2 separate regions of the Homo sapiens genome follow, and region 2 is linked to region 1. The links come from fine-mapping of genetic effects on gene expression. A gene starts in region 1. The other region holds a variant in brackets. All regions are shown on one strand. Distances are from middle to middle. Region 1 holds the start of TESC (tescalcin). Region 2 overlaps TESC (tescalcin).

Region 1 (2,710 bases):
CAGACCTGATACCTGACGGTCATTGATGGTGGTGTCACTAAGCACTGCAGAGCCTTCAGGAGAGCCTTGACCTTGATGTTCTGCCCTGGCTGTGTGCCTCTCCAGGGGACAAGATTCCATAGCGCCCACCAGCCTCTGTGGCCATGTGCTGTGTCCACGCCAGGCCCTCTGGTGGACATCTCATTAACTTATCCTTATTTTAAGGAGGAGGAATCACATTACACAGGCAACAGCATCGGCCCCAGTCACCCCAACTGGATGGAGAGCCAACCCCTCAAGCCATCTTAACCCAGAACTTCCCTAATGGGCATGGGGACCACCGGCATTGCCTTCTCTCCAGCAGTTTGTCCCAAATGCAGCCTCCTGGGCCCACTTCTGCAGTTGTTTTTTTGTTTGTTTGTTTTTTGAGACAGAGTCTTGCTCTGTCGCCCAGGCTGGAGTGCAGTGGCAAGATCTCAGCTCACTGCAACCTCTGCCTCCCAGGTGCAAGTGATTCTCCTGCCTCAGCCTCCGGAGTAGCTGGGATTACAGGCATGTGCCACCGCGCCTGGCTAATTTTTGTGTTTTTAGTAGAGACGGGGTTTCACCATGTTGGCCAGGCTGGTCTCGAACTCATGAGCTCAAGTGATCCGCCCGCCTTGGCCTCCCAAAGTGCTGGGATTACAGGCGTGAGCCATGCGCCCAGCCCGCTCCTGCAGTTTGAGGTGCCTCTCAGCCACCGGGCTGTGCAGGGCCCACACGGGCCGCCACGTGGGTGTGTTCACCTCAGAAGGTGCTGGGGCTTTCCTGGAAAAAACCAAAGCGCATGGTGCATTTTCAAATAGGATTATTATTACTGTTGTTCTCCATAGAGCTATTTCATGCTCGCTGACTTCCTTGACTATCTCAGTGGAGTTTCCCTCCTAAGATCTGGAGGATGTAAGGTGGGATGGGTTGGGAGTGGGCATAGCACCTCCCAGGGGTCCCACCCCTCCTACCCACGCCCCCAAATTTGCTCACACCTGCTTCCTTCCAGATCCAGCAGGTGTGCGGAAGGGACGAGGTACGTGAGCACTGCTGCACGAACGGGGACTCCAGAGCGGTGGGCTCCGGGGTCCCCTTCCCGGCGGTTTCCGGGCCGGGGCGGGGCGGGGCGCTCCCCTAGCCGCGCAGTGCGCGAAACCGGCGTGCGCTAGGACCGCGGCGCGCCGCCCTCCGCCGTTATATGAGGCCCCGCTCCGGCCCCACGCGGAACCCGCGGCTCCGAGCCTTCGCCGGCGTCCCGACCCGAGGCCGGACCCGAGGCCAGTCCCGCCGCTGCGCAGCCGAAGCCAGTGCGGGGCCTGAGAGGGACGCGCGCCCCGGGGCCCCCGCCGCGGGCACCATGGGCGCTGCCCACTCCGCGTCTGAGGAGGTGCGGGAGCTCGAGGGCAAGACCGGCTGTGAGTACCCGCGGGGGGCGGCGCGGGGACCGGGGCGGGACCTCCGAACGGCCACTGTTGGGGACCCCGGCCCGCCGCCGCGCTGTGTGACCTTGGGCCAGTGGCGGGCCCTCTCTGCGCCTCAGTCTCCTCCTCTTTCAAATGGGTCCCCGCTGGCCACCTCGCGGGCTGCGGCGAGGAGCTCCGCGGCGATGCTCAGTGCCGCAGCCGCTCAGCTTCGGACTGGCCCGGGAACTCCCTGGCCGGGGGACTGCGGACCGGGGAGGGAGCGGGGCCCAGGCTTCCCAAGCGCAGGGCAGGTGCCTCAGGCCGGGCGGGCAAGTCCCTCAGGCACCCCCGCTGGCGCGCGCGCCCCACACCTGAGAGTCGTTTGCATTCGTGAGCGCGAGAGCGGAAAGTTTTGAAGTCGGCGGACCTGGGTGGGAACAGGTCTCCGACGCTCCCCGGCCGGGTGACCTTAGTCGGGAGAGCCGGCGCCCGGCGCCTGCTTTCGTCCTCGCATCTGTAAAATGGGTTCAGGCAGCCTCATCCCCGCGGGTGGCTGGGAGACTTAGCGAGGCAGCGGCCGCAGAGCACTTTGCCCGGAGCCCAGCGTCCTCCCCTGAGTTCGCTGAGTCTCCCGGGACCAGCAAAGGCTGCGCGCCCCGCATCGGCCCGGAGGCGGGGAGCCCTGGGAGGCCTGGCCGAGCTGCCCGCAGGGAAATGGCGGAGAAAGCGCTTCTCTGCCCGAGTTCAGCCGGGCTGGGGACTTGGCCCTGGGTCCTGAACTCGGCATGGCCAGTTCTGCCTCTGGCTGTGGACCAGGGTGTGGACTGGAGACCGCGGGGGCCAGGTGTGTGGGCAAACCGGCTTTGGCGAGCGACAGACCGGCTGTGAACCCTGCCAGCTGCACTTCCTGGCTGTGTGACCTTGGGCTAGTCACTTTACCTCTCTGATTCTCAGCTTTCCTTCTCTGTTGTAAGAGTTCTCCTAGTACCTGGTAGACGCTCAGGAAATGGGAGCTGCAGATATTTTGGGAAAGAGCTAGCTCCTGGCACCTGCTTCAAGTGCAGAGAACCAGCGTCCAGTATTGATCACCAAGAGAGGGTGGCCCAGCTGTTTGTGTGTCAGCTGAAAAGCAACCCCTCTTGACCCCCAATCTAAATACCCCTTTCCAGGAGAACTGGATGAAAATTGCAGAAAACCATTAATAACTGGTGTGTGTATGCACGCACTTATACGTCTATATCTGTATCTCTGTGTGTGTAGAGATATAGAAATATCCAACTAAAGAAGTAAAAGGTGTGGCT
Region 2 (3,011 bases), 37 kb after region 1:
CACTGGGCAGGCAGTGCAGGAAGGGGAACTCAGAGGGACATTGGGCAGGCAGCCCGGCAAAGTGGCCTCCCTCAGTGCAGGGAGCCCTGGAGCGGTGGAAGTTCCGGCCTGAGAATCTGGGGCCTGGCTGCACCCTCACCTTGGAGGTCGGTTAGCCTTGTGGTGGTTGGTGGGGGTTGGGGAGCTCCATGCTCAGTACCCCTAGAGAGAACTTTGCAACTGAGCTGGGCTCCGAAAGCCACCGGAAACCAACCCACACCACGAGGCTTGAGGAAGAGCCCAGCACAGTCCTCGGTGGTTTTTTGAGCCTGGTCCTTCCCTTCTTGTTGGCCTGACGCTTGTCCTGCCCTCTTCCTGGGTCCCAGATGGGGCCTCTTGGGCTGAGGGCTGGGGGCTGGGTGAGAGCAGATGCCTCGCTCTTTCTCTCTTTAACGTAAAAATGCGCAACTGGAAGGAAGGAAGTGGTGAGAGTGAGGAAGCGCAAGATGGTTCGAGCCAGCCTGGAGGCAGAGCTGGAGTCCCGCGCCAACTCTAGCTGTGTGACTGGGGCTTAGTCTCTTTGCCTCTCTGGGCCTTGTGTTCTGGTCTGTAAAATAGGATCATCATTGTTGCCACTCATGATTATGTGGGGGTGATTAAGTGTTGCAGTGCTTAGCACAGCTTGATGTCACGCGAGCCCTTCATGACTCCAGGGGGACATTCTGAAGCCCCGAGGGCTCAAGCTCTCCCGCAGGAGGCCTGGAAGGTGTGTGGCCCTGGAGCCCTCCTGGGCAATCCCCGCTACCCCTGATGGTCACTGGGGCAACACCACTGGCCATGAGAATCAGCTCTGGCTGAGGGCAGTGACCTGCCGTCAGCCCTGGGCTCTGAGGTGAGGCAGAGCCTGTTCCCATGGCTGCAGCCTGGGCTGCGACACCTTTAGAAAAGCCGGTTCATCCAGCCCGGCGGGGACCTAGGGAGGAAGGAAAACAAAACTGACACGAGTATTGATGGAGCATGAAACTGATGAAATGAAAAGGTTAGCCTGTCCTAAGCGCTGGACTCAAGGCCGGTGCTCTCCTTGTTGAAAAGGGACATTGGCAGGTTTTAGGGAAAGTCCCTGAAGGCCAGGCACCAACCACCATGCCACTGCCTGGGTCCGCCAGTATCATTCTTAACAATGAGAAGTGGCTTCATCTCTCTGCCTCAGTTTCCTCATCTTTAAAATGGGCACAGGCCGGGTGCAGTGGCTCACACCTGTAATCCCAGCACTTTGGGAGGCTGAGGAGGGC[A/G]GATCACCTGAGGTCACGAGTTCGAGACCAGCCTGGCCAACATGGTGAAACCCCATCTCTACTAAAAATACAAAAATTAGCTGGGCATGGTGGCAGGTACCTGTAATCCCAGCTACTCGGGTGGCTGAGGTACAAGAATCACTTGAACCCAGGAGGTGGAGGTTGCAGTGAGCAGAGATCACGCCACTGTGCTCCAGCCTGGGCGGCAGAGTGAGACTCCGTCTCAAAAAAAAAAAATTAAGAAAATAAAATGGGCATAAGTACCTACTTTATAGGGTTGTTGTGAACCCTATGTAATAATGTAAAGCTCTTAGAATAGTTCCTTCCATTTTGAGGGTACGTAGGTTAGCTGCTGTTACATTATTATTATTACTACTATTAATACTGCTGCAGCGATTACTGTTACTGCTGCTGCCGTTATTACTGTTATTATTTTAAAATTAAGAGCTCATCCTGTGTCAGGCAGCCTACTCAGCATCTTATGTGGATTTATCTCATTTGATCATCTCATTAGCCCCATCATGTTACCTGGATATTCCTATGATCCCCATTTTACATATGAGAAATCACGGCTTGAAGACATGCTGTGATTACTCAAGACCATGTGCCTGGTAAGGGGCAGAGCCTGGGCCAGCACCCCTCTCCCCACCTTGTGTTTGACCCTGAACCATCCCCTTTGATATGGGAAGGATTAGGTCTGCACCCATCTCACAGATGAGGAAACTGAGGCTCCAAGAGTCAGGCACCAGTGGTGAGGGGGAGGTGAGAGTCAGGTGTGGATGTAGCAGGTGCCTATGGAGAGAGAGAGAGAGAGCAGAGGCAGCGGGCTTCAGAGCCATTTACACACCCACTGGGGGTTGTGAAGCCAGCACCTGGGGACACTGTGTCCCCAGCTCAATTCCTAGCAGGTCAAGCATGTCTTGTTGCTGCTGGTTGGGGACAGGCCTCTTGTGTTGAGTTAATTTCTTCTCCAGGCACATGGGTCAGGCTCTTCTAGGTGGTTTCTCCCCCACCTCTCCTCCCTCTCTCCTGGGACATTGGGGTCTGCTCTCCTTCCAGGGTCTGGACACCTGGGCCCTGGGGAAGGCACCTGGGGAAGGGCAGTGCCTCAGGATGGGCCAGACAAAGAGGGAAGCCCTGCGTGCAGCCATCTTCATTATTCGCTTCATTATTCGCTCAGCAAACCATTTATTGACCACCTTGCCAAGCCCAGCAGTGCAAGGCACTGAGGACGGGGTGCTGTGGACATCACAGGGTCCCCATCCTGCAAGGTGCCATCTGTGGTGCACTCCCAGTTCACCAGACACCGTGCTGAGCATGTTGCAGACTTTATCTCCTCTAAACTGTACGGCAACCCTGTGAGGTTCCTGTTTGCAAAGGAGTAGACAGAGGCTGGGTGAGGCAACGCCGTTTGACCCAGGTAGCAGAGTAGGGTAGAGCCCAAGTGTGATTCCAGAGGCTGTGCCCTTCACCCTCTGTCAGTATCAGTGTGCCCTCCTCACAGACGAGAAAACAGACTCAGGAAGGATTAGCAACAGCCAGTGAAAGCCAGAGAGGGTTTGGCTAGCAGCATAGCAGCCAGCGGCTTCTCTGTTCTCCCAGATTCCCTCTGGAGCTCCACGTGGTCCCTTTCTCAGGGATCTGGGCCTTGGAAAATGGATTCTATTCGGATGGCCAGGGAGAGTCGGGCAGCAGGGTATCTGGTAAGAGCATGGCTGTACGCTACCTGGCTTCCAAGCT

What was found.
Region 2: its variant is fine-mapped to the expression of TESC in blood mononuclear cells (TOPMed, PIP 0.95).

The regions. Positions count from the first base shown.
Region 1 is chr12:117,097,936-117,100,645 of GRCh38, reverse strand. It overlaps TESC (tescalcin), which reads left to right and starts at 1,230. Exons shown (of 8, transcript NM_017899.4): 1 at 1,230-1,421. The coding sequence starts at 1,364. It overlaps TESC-AS1 (TESC antisense RNA 1), which reads right to left and starts at 1,179. Exons shown (of 3, transcript NR_120464.1): 1 at 1,002-1,179; 2 at 6-193. RefSeq lists silencers at 14-231, 1,098-1,236, 975-1,494, 1,555-1,664, 1,735-1,834.
Region 2 is chr12:117,060,725-117,063,735 of GRCh38, reverse strand. The region is part of intron 2 of TESC (tescalcin); the gene reads left to right. Among named protein-coding and RNA genes, the nearest start is that of TESC, 37 kb to the left of the region's middle. RefSeq lists enhancers at 1-546, 547-1,323. The variant A/G (reference allele first, on the strand shown) is at 1,272.